Homo sapiens: one gene and its partners. The protein of the gene in region 7 interacts with the protein of the main gene of each other region in a biochemical or structural test. Each region holds a gene or a part of one and is shown on either strand. Other genes may lie near its edges.

Region 1 (4,195 bases), on a different chromosome or scaffold from region 7:
TGTGATCTTAGGCAGTAGCTCAGTCTTTTCATCTGTAAAATAGCAGTAATACTTGTCCCACCTTTGTCAGGAGGATCAACCAGCATAATAGTTACATTACATATACATGAAGGGATTATTTTTGGGCAGCTGTTATCCCCTGTGGATTTTGTGAGGATGGAAGAATGCCAGAATGCTGTCCCTAGCTGAGTAGGTAAAAAAGGAAGCAGGGAGATCCCAAATGGCTAGAGTCAGAAATCAAAAAGCAGGAGCTTTTTCTTGGGTGTCTAGCTTGTCCACTGTCCCTGAGAGGCGTGGATAGGTTGCCCATATGTTCTCCCTGTTCTTCATTGTGGGCTCTGCTGTCAGGGAGGAAGTAGAAAAGGCAAGATAGGACTGACAAGTCAGGCAAAGGCCTGGCCCCAGCTTGGGGAACCTAATGGAGGGGAAACCCTGACCCTGTGGGGCAGAGATCCAGAGGGTAGACACTGGGAGAGCTGGACTTGGGAAAAGTAAAACTGATGACCCAGAGTACTAGCCTCCCTTTCCCTAGGGAACCTGTCCCTTAGAAAAGGTTCAGCTGTCTACCAGGTAGGGAGAGACACAGTAGAGGTGAGTGTGGATAGGTCAACTTACAGTGTAACCACAGGGGAGAGAGGGAAACCTGGGTTGGAATGCTGGCATTTGCTCCCCTGCCCTTCCTTGAGTGTGGTATCATCACTGAAGAGTTCCGCGTGGGCAGGGCAGAACTGCTGCCCTGCTTCTGGGTCATTCTCTGAGTCCCAGTGTTTACTATTGATGTTTCTGACTCAAGCCCTTCTAGCTTTGCCCTTTCAGGGGCAGGCATACCTCAAAACCGTAGACTGGTGTGAAGGTGTGGGTTGCCCCTCCACACCTGTGGGTGTTTCTCGTAAGGTGGAACGAGACTTGGAAAAGAAAAAGACACAGAGACAAACTATAGAGAAAGAAATAAGGAGACCCGGGGAACCAGCGTTCAGCACATGGAGGATCCCGCCAGCCTCTGAGTTCCCTTAGTATTTATTGATCATTCGTGGGTGTTTCTCTGAGAGGGGGATGTGTCAGGGTCACAAGACAATTGTGGGGAGAGGGTCAGTAGACAAACACGTGAACAAAGGTCTTTGCATCATAGACAAGGTAAAGAATCAAGTGCTGTGCTTTTAGATATGCATACACATAAACATCTCAATGCTTTACAAAGCAATATTGCTGCCCGCATGTCCCACCTCCAGCCTTAAGGCGGTTTTTCCCTATCTCAGTAGATGGAACGTACAATGTCTTGGTTTTATACCGAGACATTCCATTGCCCAGGGACGGGCAGGAGACAGATGCCTTTCTCTTGTCTCAACTGCAAGAGGCATGCCTTCCTCTTATACTAATCCTCCTCAGCACAGACCCTTTACAGGTGTTGGGCTGGGGGACAGTCAGGTCTTTCCCTTCCCACGAGGCCATATTTCAGACTATCACATGGGGAGAAACCTTGGACAATACCTGGCTTTCCTAGGCAGAGGTCCCTGCGGCCTTCCGCAGTGTTTTTGTCCCTGGGTACTTGAGATTAGGGAGTGGTGATGACTCTTAAGGAGCATGCTGCCTTCAAGCATTTGTTTAACAAAGCACATCTTGCACAACCCTTAATCCATTTAACCCTGAGTTTGACACAGCACATGTTTCAGAGAGCAAGGGGTTGGGGGTAAGGCCATAGATTAACAGCATCCCAAGGCAGAAGAATTTTTCTTAGTACAGAACAAAATGGAGTCTCCTATGTCTACTTCTTTCTACACAGACACAGTAACAATCTGATCTCTCTTGCTTTTCCCCACACTGGTGAGTCACTCCTCCTTTCCTCTCCCTCTACTCCCAGGAGTGAATTGTTCCCTCCAAACTAGAAACTGGTGACTGGCACTTCCTAGTTCTACCTGGAACTAGGAAACGAGTGGCAGTGGAATTTCAGTGTCCTTTAGTCTTTGCCTTCTGGCTCCAGATCACTTTTTTTTTTTTTGAGACGGAGTCTCATTCTGTTACCCAGGCTGGAATGCAGTAGCATGATCTTGGCTCACTGCAACCTCCACCTCCCGGCTTCAAGCGATTCTCCTGCCTTAGCCTCCCCAGCAGCTGGGACTACAGGCACGCGCCACCACGCCCGGCTAATTTTTTGTATTATTTATTTATTTATTTGTTTTTGAGACAGAGTCTCTCTCTGTCGCCAGGCTGGAGTACAGTGGCACGATCTCGGCTCACTGCAAACTCCACCTCCCGGGTTCATGCCATTCTCCTGCCTCAGCCTCCTGAGTAGCTGGGACTACAGGCGCCCGCCACCATGCCTGGCTAATTTTTTCTATTTTTAGTTGAGACGAGGTTTCACTGTGTTAGCCAGGATGGTCTTGATCTCCTGACCTCATGATCTGCCCGCCACGGCCTCCAAAAGTGCTGGGATTACAGGCGTGAGCCACCGCGCCCGGCCCCTAATTTTTTGTATTTTTAGTAGAGACGGGTTTTCACCATGTTGGCCAGGCTGGTCTCGAACTCCTGACTTCAAGTAATCCTCTTGCCTAGGCTTTCCAAAGTGCTGGGATTACAGGCGTGAACCCCTGCACCTGGCCACTCCAGACCACTTTTACCTCACCATGTTGCTCTTCAGTTCCTTTGTGATCATGTCTTGTGGAGTCTCCAGCCCAGTTCCGATTCAAGATAGAGCTACTGTGATTTTTTTTAAAAAAATTTAATTAGAATAGGTTAATTGACATGGTTTTATAATTAAAATGATATCAAAGGGGTGGGGTATCTCATTCCCATGTTGCTCCTGTTCACCCCAAACCCCAATAGTTTCTAATGTCTCTTCAGTGTTTCATTTTACAGATACAAGTATATATAAATAATACTTGTTTTTTCTCCCCTTTCTGACACAAAAAGAGGCATACTACATATATTCTACATCTTGCTTATATATATATATCATGGAGTTTTGTTGTTGTTGTTGTTGTTTTTGAAACAGGGTCTCACTCTGTTGCCCAGGCTGGAGTACAATGGCATGATCATAGCTCACTGCAGCCTTTTTTTTTTTTTTTGAGACAAAGTCTTGCTGTGTTGCCCAGGGAGGAGTCCAGTGGCGTGATCTTGTCTCACTGCAGACTCTGCCTCCCAGGTTCAAGTGATTCTCCTGCCTCAGCCTCCCGAGTAGCTGGGACACAAGCGTGCACCACCATTCTTGGCTAATTTTTGTGTGTGTGTATATATATATATATATATATTTTTTTTTTTGAGATGGAGTCTGGCTCTGTCACCCAGGCTGGAGTGCACTGGAGCAATCTCGGCTCACTGCAAGCTCCGCCTCGCGGGTTCACGCCATTCTCCTGCCTCAGCCTCCCGAGTAGCTGGGACTACAGGGGCCCGCCACCACTCCGGCTGATTTTTTGTATTTTTTTTAGTAGAGACGGGGTTTCACCGTGTTAGCCAGGATGGTCTCGATCTGCTGACCTCGTGATCTGCCTGCCTCGGCCTCCCAAAATGCTGGGATTACAGGCATGAGCCACTGTGCCCAGCCTTTTGTACATATTTTTTTAATTTAATTTTTTTTTTTTGAGATGGAGTCTTGCTCTGTTACCCAGGCTGGAGTGCAGTGGCGTGATCTCGGCTCACTGCAAGCTCTGCCTCCCGGGTTCACGCCATTCTCCTGCCTCAGCCTCCCAAGTAGCTGGGACTACAGGCACCCGCCACCATTCCCTGCTAATTTTTTTTTTTTTTTGTATTTTTAGTAGAGATGGGATTTCACCATGTTAGCCAGGATGGTCTTGATCTCCTGGCCTTGTGATCTGCCCCCATTGGCCTCCCAAAGTGCTGGGATTACAGGTGTGAGCTGCCCGGCTAATTTTTGTATTTTTAGTAGAGATAGGGTTTCACCATGTTGGCCAAGCTGGTCTTGAATTCCTGACTTCAAGTGATCCGCCTGCCTTGGCCTCCCAAAGTGCTGGGATTACAGGCATGAGCCACCGTGCCTGGCCTCACTGCAGCCTTGACCTCCTGGGTTCAAGCAATCCTCCAGTCTTAGCCTCCTGAATAGCTGAGGCTATAGGCAAGTGTGAGTGGTGAGCCATACCTGGCTAATTTTTTATTTTTTTAGTACAGACAGGGTCTCATCTGTTGTACAGGCTGGTCTTGAATTCTTGGCTTTAAGGGATCCTTTTGCCTTGGCCTTTCAAAA
Region 2 (4,195 bases), on a different chromosome or scaffold from region 7:
CCAATGAGAAAATCTAAAAAATCTAAAAATCCTTTTCTTCAATGAAAAACTGTAAAAAAAAATTAATTTTAAAGATCCACATCAATCACTGAAAAACTGAATTAAAACAATGAAAAATTTTAGAATGCCAACAAGAAAGAAAAAAATCTTAAAAGCTCCCAAAGGGGGGATAAAAAAGATGTTCCACAAAGGAATGAAAATTAGATTGGCATTGGAATTCTTATCCACAACACTGAGTGCTAAAGAGGTTCCAAGGAAAAAATTATTTGGAATACCACATTTAGCCATTTTATCATTCAAGTGAAAATGAAAAGTACACTTTTAGACATGCAAAGACTCAAAAGTTTATGTCACAATTTATTTGAAAGAAATTACTAAAGATTATTTACCAATGGTTAAAATGGTAAAATTTATGTTATGTGTGTTATACCACCAAAAAAAATTGTAAAAAAACAAAAAAGTAGAACAAATGAGAAGGAATGGGATATAAGAAAAATTTGTGACAACATAAGCTTAATTCTAAATAATTTTTAGAAAGTTGTTAAGAGTATAAGAGCTTAGACTTTCACAAACCAGTTTTTCCCTACTTTCTAGCCTCTTTTATTGTGAAATATAACACACATACAATTACATAAAGAAAAATATAAGATTAATAAATTCCTATAAACACACACTCTGGACCTGCACAAAGCCTAGAAGTGGAGCATTGCCTCTCTTGTTTCATTTCCTAATCAGCACCCCTAAACTTCCCCCAGCAACATCCTCTAGCTGACATTTTTGAGAATACACTTTTGCCTTACTCTATAGTTTTACCACCTAAATACGCATTTCTAAACAATACAGTGCCGTTTTGACTATTTTTTAACTTTATACCTAAATGTAGTCAAACAGTATGTAATCTTTCATGTCTAGCTTCTTTCATTGAACAATAATGTTTGTCGAGAGACAAGCATGACTATTGAGGCAGGAGAAGGTGCGCATTGTCTCATTCCCCACAAGTCTTCAACTCTTGTATTCAACTCTCCTGGGCAGCTGGCTCCTAGTTTTGAAATGTTTTGCTATGCACAAAGGCCATTTTATGCCTGCAACCACCACACTGCCACCCACTTGATCAGGTACAACACCCCCATTCCTTACCACAATCCCTAAAAAAGGATATCAACAGGGAGCTCAACTCATAATACATCCAACCATGTCCATCCCAGGCATACCTCTCCACTTCATGCCAAGAGCCTGAAGGAACAAATGAACACAACAGCTGCAGCTGGGATTCCAGCCTGCATTGTGTTACTGTTTTGCCTTAGCTCTTCAAGTAACAGTGGTGCCCACTATGGACCAAATACATATTTGACTGGACCACTGAGAGTGATGAAAGGCCTAGAAAGTCAGTAAGTCTCTACGTGCATTGCCTTATGCAGTGGCTACCTCTAAATGGGAAGATGACTCATCTGAGCAAGAAGGACTAGTATCAACTGGGTGACCATGTTGTCCAAGGGCCATACACTTACAGGCTTCAACATACTAGATTTACCACCAACAGGGATCTCAGAATTATGAAGTTACTGTGATAGAAGTTATTAAGAAATTATTTTAGGCAGATAGAGAAAAAAGGAGTCCTTGGAAAGTTTTCATTTCTTTTTAAAACACCTCCAAAAGTGTTTCTTGTCTAACAGAAAAGTCCCAGCTCTTAGAGCCAAGCCGGCAACCTTTAGTATGCATATGCAAGCCATTAGAAACTGGGTCCACTCAACATGGCGATTCCCACCTTTGTCCTCTTGCCCTTGCCCCACATGTATTTGGGAATATGGCCGCCCCACATATCCCCATGTGTGTAGAACATCATGGTGCCCTGCATTTGCATATTAAAAGGCTAGGGTGGGAAGGCCAGTTTTTTTCCGAGGGCTACCTGAATGAAAGCCTGGTCAAACCAATCCCCTAAGCTCTATGCAAATCAGACACCCCCTCCTCCAGCCTCTACATATACCTGCCTGGTACGCACCACACTTGGGGTTTCCTCTTTCGGCTGTGGAGCCCCCATCCCTCTGTCTCTGTAAGAGCGAACCTTCTGCCTTTTCTTTTCTTTCTTGCCTATTAAACTCTCTGCTCCTTAAAACCACTCCACGTGTGTCCGTATTGTTTAATCTAATTCAACGTGAGACAAGAGCCCTGGTGTTCCTCCACTCATGGGAGCCATATCATTACTATAATTGCTAACTAGAATGGGTTGCCTCTCAGAGGAAAAACAAGAAAGCTCAAAGGAGGGAAGGAAGAGTGGACGGGCAGAAAATAAATATTGCTGCTGGGATAGTTGTTTGTATTTTCATCAGTCAGGCTGCCAGTGGCTGCTCCTATGGAGGGACTGCAAGAAAGTCAATGATCTAATAAGAAAGTCCTGAAGATACTTATGAACGTTATAGAAACAAGCTGTGTTATGGCCTACACTCCTAGGAAAACTCCAAGTGGCTGTTTCCTGGAGAGAAAGGGTCAGAGGGAAACCAGTGGACTGATGCAAAAACCTAAAATGGACCTTTGACCTTTAAAAGTTTCAAATATGACAAATGAAGAGAGATGATGATAGTGGAGAACTTAGGGCTGTTAGGAGAAAGGAATTAGAATCGGGATAAAGATCCCCTGGAGAGAATTCCTGTATAGAGAGGGAAACTGTTGCTTTCCCTATCTCATTGAATACATTTCAACCACAACATATTCCTGAGTTTAATAGATACACCAGACTCCAAGTGGCTGTTATTTTGTCTCCTTTGACTGAACTGTAACTACAGTTTCTTTGGAACCTGGATCAAACACACCAACATGTTAATTAGATTCACTCATTTCAAATCCTGTTTACTGCAGGTTAAAGTATTGGAAGAAAAAAAAATCCAAGGAGTCTTGCTCCTTTTTTCTTTGTGAGCTTCCTGGACACTCAGATGTTGAGAAGAAGGGAACTGAAAAAGAAGCAAAAGAACTTCTGATTTTATTTGTCTGTTTGGACTTTACCAAATAACTGATATTTTGCTTTGTTCAAATCAAAGCATCCTCAACGGACATAAACTTGGATACCGGCCGGGCGCGGTGGCTCACGCTTGTAATCCCAGAACTTTGGGAGGCCGAGCTGGGTGGATCATGAGGTCAGGAGTTCGAGATCAGCCTGGCCAACAGTGAAACCCCATCTCTAAAAAAAGTACAAAAATTAGCTGGGCATGGTGGCACATGCCTGTAGTCCCAGCTACTTGGGAGGCTAAGGCAAGAGAATCACTTGAACCAGGGAGGTGGAGGTTGCAGTGAGCTGAAATTAGGCCACTGCACTCCAGCCTGGGCCACAGAGTGAGACTCCATCTCAAAAAAAAAAAAAAAAAAAAACCTGCATACCAACTTTATCTCAGGTGATTCTGCAGCTTTCTATGGTGGTAGAATGGTAACTACTGGGCCCCTGAAAAGTATATTATTCAAAAAAAAAAGGACATAAAGTCTGGATTAATTACAAGAGGGACAGATACCAATGAGTGGGATATGAATGAATGCAACCAACATTGAGAAACAGGTCATGAGAGCAGCAGGAGTAAGTAAAACTTTCTACTTTTTTGTTCCAAATCTGAACATACCAATTAATTCAGGTGAAAAGGCATATTTTTGATGAGCGTCAGTGTCAAAGAGTGGATTGCAGAAAGATAAACCATATTCTCTGCTATGAAGAAGCTAGCTAAGATTGGCACTTTTTTCTCCCAAGCAGAAAGAGTTTCACACGGTCTTAAGTTCCTACAAGGCTAACAAGTGCTCCCAGTAGCATTATGCAATTCCCTTGGCAGCTGTATTCTGACGCCATTTGTGTTTGTAAGCAAGGCCACTCTCACCACATAGTACCCAGTATTAAATATTCATTCAGGTGCAGCCTTATCCTATAGTCCTTAGAAAACATGAGAGATCAGCAAGGGGCAAAATCTTTCTCCTGAAGTATAACTCATAGCAAGCCCAGTACTGCCCTGCTGACATAACTCTATGTGATTTCAAGACTGTGCATTCTATACTTGTAGCAGATATACCAACATTGATAAAATATTCTTGCCCCAAAATGCTTTCCTGAATCTAATCATGAGGGAAAAATTAGACAAATCCAAATTGAGAAACCTCCAAAACAATTGGTATAGGTTATTCAAAAATATCAAAGTCATATAAGGAAAAGATATGGGAATTGCAC
Region 3 (4,750 bases), on a different chromosome or scaffold from region 7:
TTTAAAATATAGGTTCTATATATATGCGTCTTTGTGCACTTATACACCTATGTTGTTTGCACATGTTTATATGTGGAATCTATATGGCATATTAAAGTATATTTCAAAATAATACACAAATGATCAACAATTCAGTCATAGCGTAGTGTCTGATAATTGCATTTCCTGCAGTCTATGTTCTTAGGATCATAATCTTTAACGGTTTGGGAAAGCCAACACATAAAATGACAATTTTGAGTTGTGCAGCCTATTTTGGGACATTTAAAGATGTTAAACAGATTTCCCTTTGGACTTACTCATTCACTTCTTGGCTAAGATCATTTACTATAAGAGAGTCTGCCAGACAAGGAGGGAATACAGGGACCTAGGGCCAAGGGGAGTAGAAGGGAAACCTGGGAAAACACACCAAGTTTGGGTTAGGGGATCACCATTCCATCTGGAAGCTAACTGGATAATAGGGTATCCATTCGTCCTCACCCTTGAACCTCCTCCGTGTTCAGAAGGAAACTAATAAATCACTTTATCCCTCTCTCCATTGTTAGTGGACTCTTTTACTCCTTTGCAGTGAAAGGCTGCTTTCTTGGGGTAAAGATGTCAACCCTAGCAGAGGATTTCAGTGATCTTTCTGGCGGCGAAGCTTAGACCGTGTGTTTAAACATCATTTTATGAAGAAGTACACTGTGAGTGGACTGAGGGCCATGCCCTGCACCTTTCTTCCCAGTCCCTGGGCCACCAACTACCCAACCACCTCGGTTGTTCCAGAAGTGAAGGCTCACCATGGTGTGGCTTATGTAATATACATATGTGCTATGATCCCTGTGGATAATTAAGGCTAGGTCCCTTTATATGCCTAGGACAAGTTAGCAACCCTTTCAAGGTCGTGTTTTCGAAAGGATGACAATTACTTTCCCATTGGACTTTTGGTACATTTACATCAAACACTGCCAGCTACAGTGTCTCCTAATACTGACCCCTGGGCTAATTAGCAGCTTAGTGAGGTTGTTTCAATTTTTCAGCAACCAATTAAGTAGTTGCTCTAGACAGAACTGACAACACAATGTGAATTTTAAAAACCGGGATCTGCTGGTTGAGGGGAGAAAGCCAAACCCAGTAAGGCAAGTGGGGGCAGGGCGAGGCTGTGAGTGGCTCTGTTTCTGCTAGCAGAATACTGGGTCTTAAATTCAGATTAAATCACAGTTTACCTGACGAGTACCCCGCCCCCCCTTCCCATTAGTAAAATAATAGCAATAATTTAAAAAGAGCCGAGCATCTGGGTTAGTGCAAGGGGAAGCGAGACCTTTAACCATGGCCACCCCACTTGCTCTTTGCGAGGCACCTGTTAGATGCGCTCGTGTGCCCTGACCCCTATACCGAGAGACAGCTCCACACCTGCATTTACCCTTCAGCCTAAATGGATTCCCATCAAGCCTTTCTCACTTCACTGTCGGATCCACAGAGGCACCGAACCGCAGCCACTCTGCAGAAGCACTCTCAGCCACTCTGTCCCCTAAGGGAGATTTAAAAGTGGTCGCCCCCACTCGCCCTCCCTCAGCCAGCATCTCCATCTAGGGAAGGAATTTCAGTTGTCTCCAGGAGGCAAAAAGCGAAAAGGTGAGGGATGCACCGAGAGAAGAGAAGATACCTACTCACTCCCCTCCCCACTCACCCACGCGTCCGCTCCCGGCTCCCCCTCCGCCTGCTTGGGTCTGGCGGTCAGGTGAGGTTACCTGGGCTCCCCGAGAAGCCCCGAGGGGCGCTGCAGTCCTTCCTTTCGAAATCGCCCCGCTCCCCGCCGGGCCTCCAGGACTCTTGCCCCTCTCCCCCCGCGCGCGTCCCCGGCCCCTCGGGCTCCGACGCGCAGCGACAGCCGCACGGCGCGCTCTGCTCCCCTCCGCCGACCTGGCGTGACGCAGGCGGAGACTACTTAAGGGCGGATTAGAGGCGGCGGCCGCGGATCCCCGAGCCCAGCATTCGGCTCCGCGCGCTCGGCCCTGGCCTCGCAGGCTGCCGCGCCGGAGCGCCAGGTGCCCGCTGAAGTAGCAGGAACAGAGCCGGTGTTCGGACCCTCCCCTGGCCCCCAACCTGCGGCGGAGAGCGGCGCTGAGACTTCTCCTGGGCGGGCGAGCGCTGGAGGACCTGCAGGCTGCCACCCCGCCCCGCCCCTCGTCCCGGCGTCCGCGGGATCCAGACCCGAACCCCGGACGGCGCCCGAGGTTCGTGCCCTCTCTCTAGACCGCGCCAACTGCCCCATCGGTCGGGACGCGCTTGGATTTCTTTCCCCATTTCTTCTCTTTTAAGTACAATAAAAGGAAAGGGGGATTCGAGGATTTTTTAAAAAATTGCTTCTTTAATTGGGAGGCAATTCACTCCCATTCTGGAAGTGCGGCCCGGGGAGGGGCCAGGAGCGGGAACGTGCCCGGTGCTGCCCAGTCTTTGTCTGCTGCCTCCGGATGCACAGCGATGGGGGAATGGACCATCTTGGAGAGGCTGCTAGAAGCCGCGGTGCAGCAGCACTCCACTATGATCGGGAGGTAAGGGCGCCAAGCCGGCGGTCAGGGGGCCCCGTCGGGCGGCCCCCGGGAGTCCCTTCTCACACCTGGACTGAGTCTCCCGCTCCAATCCCCAGTCCGTCCTCTGCCTCCTCCCCATCGTCCTAGGTCAAGGCTCCGGTGTTCCCGGCGATGAGGGATTACCCGACGCCCCGCGATGCCCCCCTCCTCTAGCTACTCCTAACCAGCTGCCCATCCCTTCCCCATCAAGCACCACTGGGGCTTCACTCTTCCCACATCAGAAAAGGAGCCGCTGGCTCAGTCTTGGTCCCTCCACTCTCCAGAGTCAGAGCCAATCTCCATTTGGTTCCCTAAATAGAATCTACAAAGAAGGCAGGATTGCATTTGGACAGAAAAGGGCAAATGGGGAGATGGATTTGCTCTTCAGAGCAGATGCCTCTTTTCTCAACAAATAATTACTAAACCAAACTTATTTGGCGGTGTAAACTTACCGAGCCTACACACCCAATTGCCATTTTTGGGTCTGTATCTATATCTATGTCTCTATCTACCTAGCTTTATATATATATGAGTTCAATATATATGAATATATATTCATAGCCATCTGCTTATATAAAGCATTAAATTTAATATTCATGTTGAGAATAAACTAAATATACACATGGAGTAGTTATTTACACACCCTGTGTGTAGACCTCGAAGCATGCACCATCTGTAAAGGTATTCTGTGTGCATTTGCCATATCCAGAGTGAAGGTGTGTTTTGTGTTTCTATACATTCTATATAGAGAGATGAAATCTATCTGTTGCAAGTAGACTATGTCCAGTGTATGGAGATGTGTGTACCTGGGATCTCTATAATATGAAATATTCCCAGCCTACCAGCACTCAGCAGAAAAGGAAGAGACAAAAAGCTTTCCCAGATTCCTAGTTCAGTACCAGCCCGGGATGGACAGCTCCCCAGTCAAAAGACTGGTAAACACCAGCAAAGGGAAGGGAGGAGCAGGGGTTTCCTGTCAGTGACGCAGCCCGTGAGAACCTCTCTCCCTCCCTCTTCCTCCGTTCAGGATCCTGTTGACTGTGGTGGTGATCTTCCGGATCCTCATTGTGGCCATTGTGGGGGAGACGGTGTACGATGATGAGCAGACCATGTTTGTGTGCAACACCCTGCAGCCCGGCTGTAACCAGGCCTGCTATGACCGCGCCTTCCCCATCTCCCACATACGTTACTGGGTCTTCCAGATCATAATGGTGTGTACCCCCAGTCTTTGCTTCATCACCTACTCTGTGCACCAGTCCGCCAAGCAGCGAGAACGCCGCTACTCTACAGTCTTCCTAGCCCTGGACAGAGACCCCCCTGAGTCCATAGGAGGTCCTGGAGGAACTGGGGGTGGGGGCAGTGGTGGGGGCAAACGAGAAGATAAGAAGTTGCAAAATGCTATTGTGAATGGGGTGCTGCAGAACACAGAGAACACCAGTAAGGAGACAGAGCCAGATTGTTTAGAGGTTAAGGAGCTGACTCCACACCCATCAGGTCTACGCACTGCATCAAAATCCAAGCTCAGAAGGCAGGAAGGCATCTCCCGCTTCTACATTATCCAAGTGGTGTTCCGAAATGCCCTGGAAATTGGGTTCCTGGTTGGCCAATATTTTCTCTATGGCTTTAGTGTCCCAGGGTTGTATGAGTGTAACCGCTACCCCTGCATCAAGGAGGTGGAATGTTATGTGTCCCGGCCAACTGAGAAGACTGTCTTTCTAGTGTTCATGTTTGCTGTAAGTGGCATCTGTGTTGTGCTCAACCTGGCTGAACTCAACCACCTGGGATGGCGCAAGATCAAGCTGGCTGTGCGAGGGGCTCAGGCCAAGAGAAAGTCAATCTATGAGATTCGTAACAAGGACCTGCCAAGGGTCAGTGTTCCCAATTTTGGCAGGACTCAGTCCAGTGACTCTGCCTATGTGTGAGAGGGCAGGTTTCATGAAGGTCTGGGGGATGGCAAGGAGCCCCAAGGCAGATGACTGCTCAGACGTGGCTGTATCCACCCTCATTTATGTGACCCTCACCATTAAGATGTAGGATAAGACTGGATAAAAGAAGATTTTGCACCAATGGGAAAGGAGGAAAAGTGGACCCATTTTCACATATCACCTAATTGGTTCTACAGAGACGATTGGGTAGAGTGATGAAATGGATCAATTAGACTTCTTTGGTCCCTTTCTGTTTATGGCCTAGCCTGATCCTGA
Region 4 (4,195 bases), on a different chromosome or scaffold from region 7:
TTACTTCCATTTTTTTTTCCTGCAATCCCCAAACATTAGACATGAATGTTACCTCCACTTCATGGATGCAGAAACTTCTTATTCTTCTTTCCAAGGCACAGAAATAGTAAAAGGCTTTGTTTCCTTAAAGAGTGCATACATACATACTCATACACACATTGATGTGCCATAATTTATTTAACTTTTTAAAAATAAAGGTTTCTTTTTATAACAGTTATAAATGCTCACTATCAAAAAGTTGCTTTTTTTTTTGAGACTTGCTCCGTCGCCCATGCTGGAGTGCAGTGGCATGATCTTGGCTCACTGCAACCTCCGCCTCCTGGGTTCAAGTGATTCTTGTGCCTCAGCCTCCCGAGTAGCTGGGATTACAGGTGCCTGCCACCAGGCCTGGCTAATTTTTGTATTTTTAATAGAGATGGGGTTTCACCATGTTGATCATGCTGGTCTTGAACTCCTGATCTCAGGTGATCCACCCACCTTGGCCTCCCAAAGTGCTAGGATTACAGGCTTGAGCTACCACGCCCAGACTTGCTGGGATTACAGGTATGAACCACCATGCCCGGCCTCAAAAATTTGTTAATATAGAAAAGCACAAAGAAGGCTGGGCGCGGTGTCTCACACCTGTAAACCCCAGCACTTCAGGAGACTGAGTCAGGGCGGATCACCTGAGGTTGGGAGTTCAAAACCAGCCTGACCAACATGGAAAAACCCCATCTCTACTAAAAATACAAAATTACCTGGGCGTGGTGGCGCATGCCTGTAATCCCAGCCACTTGGGAGGCTGAGGCAGGAGAATCGCTTGAACCCAGAAGGCAGAGGTTGTGGTGAGCCAAGATTGTGCCATTGCACTCCAGCCTGGGCAACAAGAGTGAAACTCAATCTCAAAAAAAAAAAAGAAAAGAAAAGTACAAAGGCAGCTGGGTGCAGTAGGTCACACCTGTAATCCTAGCACTTTGGGAGGCCAAGGTGGGTAGATCACTTGAGGCCAGAAATTTGAGACCAGCCTGGGAAACATGGCAAGATCCTGACTCTGCAAAAAATACAAAAATTAGCCAGGTGTGGTGGTACACAGAGAATCGCTTGAGCCCAGGAGATCAAGGCTGCAGTGAGCTGATTATACCACTGTACTCCAGCCTGGGTGACAGAGTGAGACCCTATCTCAAAATAAAAGGACAAAGAAGTAAAGAAAAGTCACAATCTCATCATACTGAGATATGCCATGTACACAGATAGCTACAGATATATGTATATAAACATATATGCACACACACAGACTTTTTCACTTAATAAATCATGAGTATTTTCCATGTCATTAAATATTCCCCTAGAATGTGATTTTTAGTGACTATACAGAAAAACTGCAGAGAACACACTGTATGGATAAACCAAAATTTTCTCAACCAAAAGATTTTAATTTTGCCATCAAAAACAACAGAAATATATCCAAGTATATTCTTGGAGTACACTGCAAGAGGTGGAAATGTTGAATTAAAAAAAAATGTATTGCCAAACTGCCTTGAAGAATGTTCATATCAATTTATGCCTCACACGTTTTTCCAAAGGATATCTAGAGGCCCGTAAGCCATAGCACCCAGATGAGTCAGGACAGCCATGCCTGGGGGCCAGGTGCCCAAGAAGTCCCCAGCGGGCAGAAGAGAATCCATGCTATTTCCCTATCTGGGGGCCTCTGGATGAGCTTAGCACCAGGCTTGTCTGTCCTTCACCCACCATTCAGATAGGAGGAGCAGGTTGAGGCCAACTCCCAGCAAAACTGTCCTCCTGGCAGAAACAGTGTCTAGGACGGGCTGAGGAAAAGGCATAGAGCCGCTGTCTCACTGTCCTGCGCTAGGTTTGGGAAAAACAATGCAGACACAGCAAACATTTCTGCTAAGACTTTCTGCTCCTCCTCCTTACCCAATGTTCACCCAACTCCATGTTCCACCTCACCCAACCCCCAGGTCTCAGACCCACAGCCACAGAACTGACCCTCTTTCCACCGAGGAAGAACTGCACAATGAGTGGCTAATGATACTGAAGTGAAAAAGACCCAAGTTCAAATCCCAATGCTCCTAAAACTACCTGAGGCACCCTGGAATAACTGCTCAACCTCTCTAGATCTCCAATTACCATCTGAAATGGGATTAGTAAAACTTACATCCTAGCTATAAACACAGAGTAAATGAACAATGTCAAAGACACTTACCTATCTTGTATCTTCTACCAGTTGCCTGGGCCATGCTGACCAAGCCAGAAAAGGAGCATCATCCCTGATCCCTCCTCCTCTCCTCTCCATGTCCCCGATTCTCCATTCAGTACATCTCCCACACACCTCAGTGTGTCACCCCTAGCTCGGGCCACCATTACCTCTCACCTGCAGCTCTCTCTGGTGCCCAGCTCATCTGCCCGCCTCTCCCTCCCCGTCATCCACGTGGCAAACAGAGGGATTTTCCTGATGTGCAAAGCTGATGTCATCACTCCCTTGCTTAACACTCTGCAGTGGTCCCCATCTTCCTCCTGCTAAAGCCCAAGTGTTGCTGGCTTACAAGAACCTTGGTGATCTGGCCTCTGCCACCCGAGGATCTCTCACTTGTCCTCCAGCCACACTGAATTGCTTCTAATTACAACAGGCCTGGCCTCTCACGTCCTGGCCTTCACACCTTCTACTCCCTATCTCTGGCAGGCACTTTCGTATCTGCTTTAGCTCATGAGATCTCCTAGCAAGCAAGCGGAAGTACTGAGCTCTTCACCAGTAAGTATTGCCTAATGTTATTTCCTCCTTTAAAAATCTTATTACCGGCCGGGTGTGGTGGTTCACGCGTGTAATCCCAGCACTTTGGGAGCCTGAGGTGGGTGGATCACCTGAGGTCAGGAGTTTGAGACCAGCATGACCAACTTGGTGAAACCTCATCTCTATTAAAACACAAAAATTAGCTGGGCATGGTGGGAGGTGCCCGTAATCTCAGCTACTCAGGAGGCTGAGGCAGGAGAATCGCTTGAACCCAGGAGGCAGAGGTTCCAGTGAACCAAGATTGTGCCATTGCACTCCAGCCTGGGCAACAAGAGCGAAACTCTGTCTCAAAAAAAAAAAAGTTATTCCTCAGCCAGGCACAGTGGCTCACATCTGTAATCCCAGTACTTTGGGAGGTTGAGGTGGGCAGATCACTTGAGCCCAAGGGTTTGTTTGTTTGCTTGTTTGTTTATTTATTTTTTTGAGACAGAGTCTCACTCTGTCGCCCAGGCTGGAGTACAGTGATGCGATCTCGGCTCACTGCAAGCTCCGCCTCCCGGGTTCATGCCATTCTGCCTCAGCCTCCTGAGTAGCTGGGACTACAGGCACCTGCCACCACGCCTGGCTAATTTTTTGTTTTTTTGTTTTTTTGTTTTTTTTAGTAGAGACGGGGTTTCACCGTGTTAGCCAGGATGGTCTCAATCTCCTGATCTTGTGATCCACCCGCCTCGGCCTCCCAAAGTGCTGGGATTACAGGCGTGAGCCACTGCACTTGGCCGAGCCCAGGGGTTTGACATCAGCCTGGGCAACATGACAAAACTCTGTCTCTACAAAAAATACAAAAAAGTAGCCAGGTGTGGTGGTGCGTGCCTGTAGTACCATCTACTCAGGAGGCTGAGGCACAAGAATCAATTGAGCCCGGAGGATCGACTGAACCTGGAGGATCCATTGAGCCCGGGAGTTCGAGGCTGCAGTGAGCCATGATCAAGCCACTGCACTCCAGCCTAGGTGACAGAGCAAGACCCCATCTCAAATCAATCGATCAATAAAACTTTTTTAAAAATAAAAATATTTTTCCTCATAGTAGCTCTGTCAAATGATGACATTTAGCTTTCAAGAATCCATCCGCTTGATTTGATGCTATCCACTGACAGCTCGCAGGCTCTACACAAGAAGGGCTTTGAGACTGCAGTCTAGCTAGAAGGGAGTCAAGAGATTTGCCTCAAAAGTGCATTTGCAGAGCAAGTGCACTATTCTACTCAGATAATATGTTTATTTGTGGTGGCTTAGGAGGTCTTAGTGGGTATTACAAAAGGTCAGAATCCCTGACCATCTCCTTGGCACACTCAGTGATAATCCTACCAAAAGCAACTTCAGAACCCAGGGAGGGAGCGCAGGGCTGCCCTTGCTAGGCTCCAGCAGGTATTAGAAACTGTCACAATTGTCCGGCAGGTAACAGCATAATCA
Region 5 (4,195 bases), on a different chromosome or scaffold from region 7:
ATCTATCCATCTATCCATCCATCCATCCATCCATCCATCCATCTAATCATCCATCCAATCATCCATCCATCCATCCATCCATCCATCCATCCATCCAGTCATCCATCCATTCATCCATTTAATCATCCATCCATCGATCAATCGGTCCATCCATCCAGCTATCCATCCATCCATCCATCCATCTAATCATTCATCCATCAATCCATCCATCCATCCATCCATCCATCCATCCATCCATCCATCTATCCATCCATCCAATCATCCATCCATCCATCGATCAATCAGTCCATCCATCCATCTAATCATCCATCTAATCATCCATCCATCCATCCATCCATCCATCCAGTCATCCATCCATTCATCCATTTAATCATCCATCCATCCATCGATCAATTGGTCCATCCATCCATCTATCCATCCATCCATCCATCCATCTAATCACCCATCCATCCATCCATCCATCCAATCATCTATCCATCCATCCATCTAATCATCTATCCATCCATCCATCCATCCATCCATCCAATCATCCATCCATCCATCCATCCATCCCTCCATCTAATCATCCATCCCTCCATCCATCCCTCCATATCCATCCATCCATCCATCCATCCATCCATCCAACCATTCAGCAGTGAACCTCTACTGTGGTGTGTTGGAAAGAAGGGAAGTGTGAGCCTGGTCTTGCTCACAGGGAACTCAAAACAGAGCATTAGGAGGAGACTCAGGATCTTACAGCCTTGAGGGAGGTGACCCAGGCTAGAGGAAGTCAGGAGCTCAAAGACTAGCTGGGGAGCCAGGGACACACACATGGATTATAATTAGTGGCTCTGCAAGGCTGCAAGTGATCAAGGGCAGACTGCGGGGTAAAGGAAGGAGAGAAGACTCTGGGCTTTGTTAGGTGGAAGGGCTTTCTGCAGGAGGCCAGGCCAGAGAAGCCAGCCTGATGAGGCTTTGAGAGGACCTGAAACTGGAGATGGGATTTAATGGCCAGAGAGAAGGAGGCAGCAGGCTTGTCATGTAGGCAAATACACGCAAGCTTGTAGAGTAATTACCAGGCAGAGAGCTGAGGAGAGCACCCTGTTATGTTCCCTTAGCCTTGGCCTCGCTGATCGAGAAGTGTCCCAAAGACAACAAGGACTGCAGCTCCTACGGCAGCTTCAGCGACGCAGTGCTGGAACTCTTCAAGCTCACCATAGGCCTGGGTGACCTGAACATCCAGCAGAACTCCAAGTATCCCATTCTCTTTCTGTTCCTGCTCATCACCTATGTCATCCTCACCTTTGTTCTCCTCCTCAACATGCTCATTGCTCTGATGGGCGAGACTGTGGAGAACGTCTCCAAGGAGAGCGAACGCATCTGGCGCCTGCAGGTGAGCCTAGGTGGAGACCCCAGCGTGGGGGCCTCCACGGGACTCAGTTCAGCACGTGGTCATTGACTACTGTCAGCACCAGTGGGTCTGAGGTGGGGCCTGAGAATCTGCACAAGCTCCTCAGTGTGTGGCCAGGTTTGAGGAGGCCTTAGCCTAGGTTCTTTGAGTGTAGGGTCTAGGGAGTGTGGCTGTGCAACAGAATGTGTAGAAAAACTCAGGCTCATGGGGGTGCTCTGCTCAGGGTTGACAGTGTGATGTGTGGATGTTGAAGTTTGACCTTAGGTTGCATTAAGAGGAGTACAGCGTCTAGGACAGTGGAGGTGACAGTTCTGCTCTATTCTATCCTGGCCTGAACACTTCTTACATGCTGAGGAAACCAATGCATAGGATGGGTTCAGAGGTGGTAACCAGGTTTGGGAGAGGACTGGAGACTGCCTCTTAAGAAATGGTGGTTGGCGGCCGGGCATGGTGGCTCACCCCTGTAATCTTAGCACTTTGGAAGGCCGAAGCGGGTGGATCACCTGAGGTCAAGAGTTCGAGCCCAGCTTGGCCAACATGGTGAAACCTCATCGCTACTAAAAATACAAAAGCTAGCCAGGTGTGTTAGTACGCACCTGTAATCCCAGCTACTTGGGAGGCTGAGGCAGGAGGATCGCTTGAACCCAGGAGGTGGAGGTTGCAGCGAGTTGAGATTGTGTCATGGCACTGCAGCCTGGGTGACAGAGCAAAAACTCTGTCTCAAAAATAGAAAAAAAAAAAAAAAAAGAAATGCTCATTGGAAAAAGGTGAGCGTGCCTTTGGATATCTGCAGAACAACCTATGAAAGAGGGAGCAGATCCCTTCTGTGGTCCTGGAAGGCAGATGTACATGGGGTTACTACAGGGAGAAAAGCTTTGATGTCACACATGGAAGTTTCTCTTTATTAAGGCCCTCCTTTTTTTTTTTTTTTTTTTTTTGAGACAGGGTCTTGCTCTGTTGCCCAGGCTGGAGTGCAGTGGCACGATTATCAGCTCACTGCAAACTCTGCCTCCCGGGCTCAAGTGATTCTCCCACCTCAGCCTCCCAAGTAGCTGGGATTACAGGCACGCGCCACCACACCTGGGTCATTTTTGTATTTTTTGTAGAGATGGGGTTTCACCATGTTGCCTAGGCTGGCCGCTTACTCCTGAGCTCAAAGCGATTCGCCCGCCTCAGCCTCCCAAAGTGCTGGGATTACAGGTGTGAGCCACTGCGCCTGTCCAAGGCCCTCTTAATTGGTTTGTTGATGCTATTCAAGAGAGACTGGAAAAATTATGGCCAGGAAACTGCAGAGAGATTCCAAGCCTGGGAGGGGGTGGGACAAATGATGTTTGAACGGTCCTCTGCTATGGGATTCCAGGACCCCAGCACTTTCAGATAGGAAGCTCCTGGGCTTTCAGAAATATTATTTATATCATGGAGTTTCGCTCTGTCACCCAGGCTGGAGTGCAATGGTGGGATCTCGGCTCACTGCAAACTCCAACCTCCAGGTTCAAGTGATTCTCCTGCCTCAGCCTCCCGAGTAGCTGGGATTATAGGCGCCTGACATACGCCTAGCTAATTTTTGTGTTTTTAGTAGAGACCGGCTTTTGCCATGTTGGCCAGGCTGCTCTCGAACTCCTGATCTCAGGTGATCCACCCGCCTTGGCCTCCCAAAGTGCTGGGATTACAGGCAAGAGCCAGTGCGCTCAGCCCTAATTTTTGTGTTTTTAGTAGAAACAGGGTTTCGCCATGTTGGCCAGGCTGGTCTCAAACTCCTGACCTCAGGTGATCCACGCACCTTGGCCTCCCAAAGTGCTGGGATTATAGGTGTGAGCCACCGTGCCCGGCCTGCTTTTTTGTCTTTGAATTCTGTAGATTAGCCAAACCCTTGCGATCTATGCATTAAGCATGAGGTGAGGGTGGAGTGGGCTCCCCGACAGTGTGTGTGCCCTTGTGTGTGCTTGTGAGTGTGGATGCCTACTCCTTAGACTTGCTTATGTCCCCAGAGAGCCAGGACCATCTTGGAGTTTGAGAAAATGTTACCAGAATGGCTGAGGAGCAGATTCCGGATGGGAGAGCTGTGCAAAGTGGCCGAGGATGATTTCCGACTGTGTTTGCGGTAACAAAGGGAGAAGGGCCCTGGGGTGGTGGTCTTTGGGGTGGGTAGAGAGGGGCAGGATGGTGACAGGATGTTAGAGAAACAGTGCCGCCACTTGCTAACCATAACCACAGCTACTGTCTCTTCCAGTGGCCTCCTTGGAAGAAGGAATTTGCTTATGGGGTTGCAGGCCCTGAGATGGGGGTTCCTGAGCTTCAGAAGAGAAAGAGAAGGAGACTGCCAACAGCGGCTCCCCTCTCTGCATTTTTCTTTCTTCTTTTATTTTTTTTTGAGACGGAATTTTGCTCTTGTTGCCCGGGCTGGAGTGCAATGGCGCAATCTTGGCTCATTGCAACCTCCGCCTCCCGGGTTCAAGTGATTCTCCTGCCTCAGCCTCCCGAGTAGCTGGGACTACAGGCATGCGCCACCACCCCTGGCTAATTTTGTATTTTTAGTAGAGGCAGAGTTTCACCATGTTGGTCAAGCTGGTCTCAAACTCCTGACCTCAGGTGATCCACCCACCTTGGCCTCCCAAAGTGCTGGGATTACAGGCATGAGCCACCGCACCCAGCCCCTCTCTCTGCTTTTTTGGAGGTGCCTCCATGGTCTCTCTGTGTTCGCTATCTGGTTTAGGGAAGATCTGCCTGCTGGGTACTCCTTTTCCTGCTGTTTACCCTGTGTGAGTTCCTGTGACCCCGGGTGACTTGAGGCCCCTTTTGCCCCTG
Region 6 (4,195 bases), on a different chromosome or scaffold from region 7:
CCCTCCGGGGACACAGTGCTGCTGACTGTGTGCGCATTTATTTGACAGTAGCCAGGAAGTGGCCATTCTTTGGTGCCAAGTTGTTTCTTGCAAAAGTAAGAAAGAATGGGAGAGAGATGCATAATGAAAACCTTTGTGTACATAGTTGACCAGATTTACCCCAGACTTAGTATCCTTGGCTTTTGTAAAAAATGAAGAAATATCCAATAATGTAAAGAAAACAATGAAGAGACACTAGAGAAAGGGCAGAAAAGCTTCTCTATCTTTTCCTCTCTGCCCAACTTTTCCCACCCTAAATCATTTCTTGGACTCATTAGGTGAATCATGAGTCCTAAACCACAGCTGAACTCTGCATTCTTCTGTTCATTCATTCATCCATGCACATGTTTACTCTGTCACTCATTTGCTCATTAGTATTTACTAAGTTCTGTCTGCTAAACATTGAGCTAAGCTCTAGGGATACATAACCTATTGTTTCAGATGGATTGTACATGAACTTCCAGGACTATTTTACTTTGTAACAACAGGCCTATAAACAAACCACTGTATGGCAAATATCACTATGAGTCACATGAACAGACTGCTGCAGGAACACTGAGGAAGGAGACCCACCCTGCCCAGGGATGGCCAGCCCTTTCCCCAAGGGAAAAATTATGCCTTTTGATTCCTTTTCTTTCTGTTGAAACATGTCTCTTTGTACTTTCTCAGGCTCTTAAGATACATCTTGCCTTGTGTTATATTTTTCTGTGTGTTTGTTTTATACTCACTATTAAATTGCATGCTCCTTGAAACTATAAACTCACTGATCCTAAAATCTTCCTCTTGTACCTACTGTAGTGCTTTGCACGTAATTAATAATTATCACTTAATAAATATTGCTGAATAGCTGTGCAACTTTGGGCAAGTCAGGTTACCTCTCTGGACCTCACTTTTCCTCATCTGTTAATGAAATACTTAGATTAGAAAAGTAAAATCTAAGGTATCTTCTAACTCTGATTCTATGAGTGACTATATTATTGATAGGTGAGAATTAATTTTTTTCTAGTGGAACTGAAAGCTGTATACTAATTAAGAAAAAGATGATAAAGTTAGTATTCTTAAACATCTATAAAATTAATGTACTTACGGGAAGTTGAACGTTACTTTTTAAAATTACAAGGAATAGATTTGAACTGTAGAGCAGCATGGATTTTAATTCTAACTTCAGCATTGGAAGTAATATTAAATACCCTTTTCTGTTCTGATAAAATGTGCTTGCTGGCACAAAATATTATTAAATAATAATATTGCTTTTCAAATTACGTGACAAGCATCTTTTTTGCTCACTTTTCTTTCTTTATAACAAGCGACACCTCCTTTGTTGCTTCATGGCATCCTGTTTTCTGTGTGTGGTAAAATACACATAATGAAATTTACCCTTTAACCTTTTTTTTTTTTTTTTTTTTTGAGACGGAGTCTCACTCTGTCACCCAGACTGGAGTGCAGTGGTGCAATCTTGACTCACTGCAACCTCCGCCTCCCAGGTTCAAGCGATTCTCACGCTTCAGCCTTCCAAGTAGCTGGGATTACAGGCGCACACCACCACGCTCAGCTAATTTTTATATTTTTGGTAGAGACAGGGTTTCACCATTTTGGCCAGACTAGTCTCGAACTCCTGATCTGAAGTGATCCACCCGCCTCGGCCTCCCAAAGTGCTGGGATTACAGGCGTGAGCCACCGCATCTGGCCCATTGTAACCATTTTTAAGTGTATAGTTCTGTGGCATTAAGTACATTCTCATTGTTGTGTTGCTGTCACCACCATTCATCTAAACACTTTTTTATTTTCCCAAACTGAAACTGTACCTAACTCCCCAGTCCTCCCTCCTCCTCCCAGCCCTGGCAACTGCCACTCTACTTTCTGTCTCTATGCATTTGACTACTTTAGGAACTTCAGGTAAGAGAAATCATATAATATTTGTGCTTTTGTTATTGGCTTATTTCACTTAGTGTAATGTCTTCAAGGTTCATCCATGTTGTAACATGTGTCAAAATTTCCTTCCCTTTTGAGGCAGAATAACATTCCACTGTAGGTATATATATACCACATTTTGTTTATCCATTCACCTGTCAGTGGACACTAGAGTTGAAGGGCATCCTTTTGAATTGAATTCTCCCTATCCTTTGCAAATCAGCCCTCAGTAGACAGTTTCTAACTCAGGGTTTTGTATATATGAGATGCTAGCAAGTTTTATTATATAAAATAACCCAACATTCATTCCAGTTTTATATCTATAGTCTTGACATTGTTTTGTAAAATTTAAGGGAAATAGTTAAGATTTTTTTTAGGATTTCATTTGTTAATGGAACCAAACAAGCATCATTAATTGCTCAAAAACATTCATGGGTTTCAGTTGGGTTCTAGTGGTAGGAGATTCTTTTTATTAATATAATTTCATAGCTTTTTTTTTCTATGAGAACCAGGAGTAGCTTTTAGCTTTTTTTTTTTTTTTTTTTAGATGAAGTCTCACTCTGTCACACAGGCTGGAGTGCAGTGGCACTATCTCAGCTCACTGCAGCCTGCGCCTCCCAGGTTCCAGCTGTTCTCCTGTCTCAGCCTCCCAAGTAGATCGGATTACAGGCGTGCACCACCATGCCCAGCTGATTTTTGTGTCTTTGGCAGAGATGGGGTTTCGTCATGTTGCACAGGCTGGTCTCGAACTCCTGGCCTCAGATGATCCACCCACCTCGGCTTCCCAAGGTGCTAGGATTACAGGCGAGAGCCACAACACCCAGTCAATTTCGTAGCTTTTACAATAAAAAATTCGGTGGAAATTTTCATATTTCTCATTACTATTGATTACACAGTTTCATATTTTCTTGTTATTGTGTTTTTATTACACATTGAATATCAGATTTAATAAACTTTCAGGAAAGGTGTGCAATTATAATAATAATCTTTTACCTTGTAATAGCACTACACAACTTATCAAGCATATCAGTATATTTTGCTTCATTAGGATTTTGGTCATCATAGAAACCCTAAAAACTTGTTGACTATTAACGTCTTAACGCAGAAGAAAAGTAAAATATAAACATTATTGTTCCTATGCTAAAGATGAGGAAATTGAGCCTCAAACAGATTCAGTAGTTTATCCAAATGCATACATTAATATATGGCAGGTTTGGGTCTCAAAGCTAGGTCTCCTAATATCGAATTCACTCTTAGCTCCGGTATACCACCCTGCCTCTTTCCTAGGCGAGATTTTTAATAAATTTTTGTTGTTATTATTGTTGTTTAATGGCAAATGTTACATGACATTTAGACTGAAAAATATTCCTGTAATTTTGCTTAGTATTTATAATATAGTGTATTTTCACCTCTTCATAGCCCATAACTCCATCATCACTTGGAAGTACTTTCTTGTGGCTGGCTGTACATGAGGATGGTTTAAGCCTCTTAGAATACAACTCCATGGTAAGTTTAAACGCTCAAGTTTTGCATTAAGTCAACTGTTTCCATTGCTCAGTGTACCGTAAACAGAAAGTAATGATATCTTAATCTGATTTTTCTCTTACCCAGGAAACATTCTTCCTAATACTATGTCATGAACAGTCATTTTACAAATACAGCTATGATTATAATTTAACCTTTTAAAACAAGATAAGACAGGTCGTTTATTGTGTATGAGAAAAATCTTGATACCATGACTAAATTGTGATCATGGTTACATTCATGAAATGATTATTTTTTAAAAGTGTTAAGAAGATTGTTTCCTGTGTAAAATAAAAATCTGTAAGAAATCATTAAGGTGGGAACTTTAATTACCAAAGTTTAAGTTCACTTTCACTAAGGCTTCTTTAACAATTTCTATAATTTCCTATAATGTCATTTATATAGCATCTTAGCACTTTTCACATAGTTTAAATTCAAACTATGATATCTATATGTGTTCATTTATTTACCCGAAATTTACATTTTTTATCATATTTCATGTGTCTAATTATTTAATACAATTTTATTCTCTTTTTTGTTTAATCTGGTGAGCAGGAATTACTAAATTCACCTGGCAGGTCTAATCCTGTGGCTATAATCAGAAGATCACTGAAAATTTTCTGGAAACCAAACTATTCTTTTGTGTTATAGTCACTGTTTCCCCTTATAATTGCTTAAAAAACAAACACACACACACTTTTTTTCAAGGGGTTATATTTTC
Region 7 (3,816 bases):
CATGTAAAATTTTGACTGACAAAAGGAACCTACTACTTTAAACAATGGTTTTATTAGAACATGGTCAGCAAATGTATCATGCCTCTGCAAATTTTAGTGATGTTTAGAGATGCCTCTAAGTTTGCAGTTGGAGGTTTTTGTGCTTTTAGAAATGTGATGTGATCCTTAGGGTACCTGTTTTGTCTGTTGTGTTGAGAACCAAACCCATTGAACAACTTAAAAAATTGGGAAATAATTGTCAGCTATTTTGTATACATACACACAAAATATATACATTATATAATATGTATATTATGTATTATATAATATATATAAAATGTTTTGTATATTTTTTACATATCTGTTAAAAAATGTACTTTGTTTTTTTGTTTGTTTGTTTTGAGATGGAGTCTCTCTCTGTCACCCATGCTGGAGTACAGTGGCGCGATCTCAGCCCGCTGCAACCTCTGCCTCCTGGGTTCATGCGACTCTCGTGCCTCAGCCTCCCAAGTAATTGAGATTACAGTTGGGTGCCACCATGTCCGGCTAATTTTTGTATTTTTAGTACAGATGGGGTTTCACCATGTTGGCCAGGGTGGTCTCGAGCTCCTGACCTCAAGTGATCCACCCACCTTGGCCTCCCAAAGTGCTGAGATTACAAGCATGAGCCACTGCACCTAGCCAAGAAGTGTACTTTTTGTTTAATGATTACCGAAAGAAGTTCTCCTTTAGAAGCATTGACTTATACAAATTCCCACATTCACCTCAGTTAATATCTTCCTTTAGGATTCTTGGATAATAGAAATTCTTCCTAAAACATACTCAGAGATGCAGCTCATTATTAAATTAAGGTAACCACATTCTGTATTGTTGCTAGCTTTTCATGTAAACATTATTCACACTTTAAAGGATTAGGTGTTTAAATATTGATGGTCATCTTTGTCTGGTGTTAGGTGCCAGACACCTGGCTGCTGAATTTGTTTTTTCCCTCACCAAAGTTGTCATTTGGAACGCCAGCTGGGAGGACTTTGAAGGAAAAGAAAATATATGACAATAGGCAGTATTGACACATTGTTTAAAATCTTTTTCACAATAAAACAAAACACCCAAGTTGTCATATTGTTAAAGTTGGAAATCTATAGGTTTTTCTTTTTTTTTTTTTTTTTCTTTTTTTGATTCTAGATTTCATGGCCAGAACACAAATTCACGTTTCTTGTCCTAGGACAGGGAATTGGTGACAAAATGGATTATACTATTTTAATAACAGTGGAAACTTTCAAACTACATGTGTTTACACCAAATTCTTGGCTTCTCAAAGCAACATGAATTAAAGCACAGTATCAAGGTGATGCCCTATGACAATGTTTCAACACACACTTGAAATTTTAAGAGAAATTTCAGTTCTTCACTCAGGAAATGTGCTGTATTCTCTAATGTACTTTCATGCTGCAGCATGGAGCCTCTTTAAACAGCTTTGGGATAATTATAGCAGCACAAGAAGTTTATCTGCAAAATATTTCAATCATCTTGGTACAATAGATGACTTTTACATCATGTATATTAGCCTTATGTGATATAAAATGTATTACTTAGAAAATATACTTAAAGGAATTATTTCTATTATAAATGGTATTCATGATTGACTACTTAATTAATGCACATTAGATTTCTCCTAATATAAAATGAAATGATGCAGTTTAGTTCATTTCAGTCTAGATGCCCGTACTAACAAGAATACAGTTAGATAAGTTCATTGTATCTCAATGAAGAATCATTGAACTTGAAACCCAAGTCCCAAATGAATCTGCAGGAATGAGCAGTGCTCTGCGGGGGCAAACAGCCCCAGAGGTCCCAGGGTTCTTCCTAGGTAATGAGAGTATAGCTGTGATCAAGGAAATGTGAACTTCTCTTTTGGGAAGATCTGCGATAATTAGCTTTATGGAAGCGAAAATGGTTTAGAGTGGTGTTGAGCAATTGTTAAGAGTTGAAATAGACACACACATGCATGTGCTTTTGGGAAACATGATGTGCCAACGTATTAATGTGCCTGAGGGCTCCTTGTGGATAGGTCAGTGTCCACATTTCAGCACTCAGGGCATGACTGTACACAACCTAAGACTATATATATATTTTTTCATTTTCAAATGTACAAATACCCATAGAGGTGATGTGCCTGGATAAGTCATTTAACCATAGCTTAGTGAAATAAATGTGATGGCCCTAAAAAGTAGAATTTTCACTTTCATTACAGCCATGCCTTTATTATGCAGTCTCCATTTCTGTGTGATATTTGGTAATATCACATGTCAAATACATCAGGACTTTGTTTATTTTGGCTAACTCTAACTATACAATTGCTGAACATAGCTTTCTGAAATAGAAATTATAAGAGAAACCCAGTATGCCTACAGCATTAGTAGCCTAAATCCTAGATTCTAGAATCCAATAAATTTATAGTAGTTCTTAAGAAGTTTCCTTTAAAGCAACAAATAGATTATTAAGGCAAATTTAGATAATAACCCAAGTTAGCAATAAAACCATGTGACATTATAGATTATGTCCAGATACTAACTGCTTTGACCATAATATCCCAATGACAATAAAAAATGATCCTTGGTTTAAAAATTATTAAATGGTACTTATTTTTATGTATAACAAGTGTCATGATCCCAGTGACTGGAGTTGATTTTCAAGGTGGATAGCCATAGAGTTAGGTAAAATTATTTTGAATTGGCAAACTAAAGATAACAATTTTGAAAATTGCTCAAAATAATAATCTACTTAAATTTTACTTTTGTAACTTCTGAAACAGTACTCCATTATCCAGAAATCACAGGCTAGAGAGCCAATAATTTTGTAGTAATGAACCTTAACTAAACATGAAAAAGGCAATCCTGAAGTTTTATGTACATAGATAGCAGTTCATTTTTTAAATGTTCGAGTTGCCATATATTATGTATGTGTGTGTGTGTGTGTATATATATATATATATATATATATATATATATATATATACAGCTATGTGTATAATATGTAAAATTCTCCCAAAATGTATGAATATAAAACTGAATGTATTCATTCATGTAATTATAACTAGCATTCTAAAATTTTTAATTACTCCCATTTCTTTGACATTCTGAAACTTTTTTTAGATTGTTTTAAAACGCTCTGGTTCCACCTTGAAGCTGATAATCTTTCTGAAAAATATATGAGAAACTCAGAAAGTAGTCATTATTATAATAAATTTAATTTTCTTAGGGAAAAAGGGCAGGGTTCTGGATGGAAACCCCTTTGGAAATTCTTATTTAAACTTTTGAATGAATCTTTAATATGATTCAGGCTGAGATTATGATACCTGCCCTTGTCTTATTTCAAGAGGTTTGCTGTGAGAATTCATGTAATAACATCTGTAATGTATTTGGAATTTTTGGGAGAAATTCATTCTTTTAAATAATGGGATTATTGTATATAGTACAAATGAATACTCACAAAATTTAAGAATACATTTGACTAATAATTGAGCATCTTGTCAGTTTTTATGCAAGCATATATTGTATACCTGAGGAAGATGACAGTTCTATAATTTTTTTAAGGTAAGGTTATTTTTAAATTGCATTTTTGTTCTAACGTTTTGCAATTTATATTCTTTTTAAAATATTTCCCATAATTCATCATGCTAGCTTCTGTGTTCTTGGAATAGTTTTTGAAAAATGCAGAGATTCGAACATGAGTCCTTAATATACTAAACAGTGAAAGAATGATGATATCTCATTTCTAAAGTAAGCATGGTTCACACCACTTTGGCAATACACTGCAGTACTTTTTAAAAAATATTCT

Evidence for each region.
Region 1: the proteins of PALS2 (region 7) and F11R interact in a test that uses a peptide from one of them, tested with the Homo sapiens proteins (one large-scale study listed by IntAct).
Region 2: the proteins of PALS2 (region 7) and ATRNL1 interact in a test that uses a peptide from one of them, tested with the Homo sapiens proteins (one large-scale study listed by IntAct).
Region 3: the proteins of PALS2 (region 7) and GJD2 interact in a test that uses a peptide from one of them, tested with the Homo sapiens proteins (one large-scale study listed by IntAct).
Region 4: the proteins of PALS2 (region 7) and TECPR2 interact in a test that uses a peptide from one of them, tested with the Homo sapiens proteins (one large-scale study listed by IntAct).
Region 5: the proteins of PALS2 (region 7) and TRPV3 interact in a test that uses a peptide from one of them, tested with the Homo sapiens proteins (one large-scale study listed by IntAct).
Region 6: the proteins of PALS2 (region 7) and PLEKHH2 interact in a test that uses a peptide from one of them, tested with the Homo sapiens proteins (one large-scale study listed by IntAct).

The regions. Positions count from the first base shown.
Region 1 is NC_000001.11:161,014,458-161,018,652, reverse strand, and holds part of F11R (junctional adhesion molecule A isoform 1 precursor), read left to right. Parts: intron 1-4,195. UniProt on the Homo sapiens protein: Seems to play a role in epithelial tight junction formation. Appears early in primordial forms of cell junctions and recruits PARD3.
Region 2 is NC_000010.11:115,302,387-115,306,581, reverse strand, and holds part of ATRNL1 (attractin-like protein 1 isoform 1 precursor), read right to left. Parts: intron 1-4,195. UniProt on the Homo sapiens protein: May play a role in melanocortin signaling pathways that regulate energy homeostasis.
Region 3 is NC_000015.10:34,752,199-34,756,948, reverse strand, and holds the start of GJD2 (gap junction delta-2 protein), read left to right. Parts: upstream 1-1,950; 5' UTR 1,951-2,460; coding exon 2,461-2,531; intron 2,532-3,576; coding exon 3,577-4,471; 3' UTR 4,472-4,750. UniProt on the Homo sapiens protein: One gap junction consists of a cluster of closely packed pairs of transmembrane channels, the connexons, through which materials of low MW diffuse from one cell to a neighboring cell.
Region 4 is NC_000014.9:102,368,971-102,373,165, reverse strand, and holds part of TECPR2 (tectonin beta-propeller repeat-containing protein 2), read right to left. Parts: intron 3,423-4,195; exon of another isoform or gene 3,391-3,422; intron 2,750-3,390; exon of another isoform or gene 2,681-2,749; intron 1-2,680. UniProt on the Homo sapiens protein: Probably plays a role as positive regulator of autophagy.
Region 5 is NC_000017.11:3,515,753-3,519,947, reverse strand, and holds part of TRPV3 (transient receptor potential cation channel subfamily V member 3), read left to right. Parts: intron 1-1,097; coding exon 1,098-1,372; intron 1,373-3,378; coding exon 3,379-3,491; intron 3,492-4,195. UniProt on the Homo sapiens protein: Non-selective calcium permeant cation channel. It is activated by innocuous (warm) temperatures and shows an increased response at noxious temperatures greater than 39 degrees Celsius. Activation exhibits an outward rectification.
Region 6 is NC_000002.12:43,758,935-43,763,129, forward strand, and holds part of PLEKHH2 (pleckstrin homology domain-containing family H member 2), read left to right. Parts: coding exon 1-95; intron 96-3,369; coding exon 3,370-3,456; intron 3,457-4,195. UniProt on the Homo sapiens protein: In the kidney glomerulus may play a role in linking podocyte foot processes to the glomerular basement membrane. May be involved in stabilization of F-actin by attenuating its depolymerization. Can recruit TGFB1I1 from focal adhesions to podocyte lamellipodia.
Region 7 is NC_000007.14:24,688,452-24,692,267, forward strand, and holds part of PALS2 (protein PALS2), read left to right. Parts: 3' UTR 1-3,816.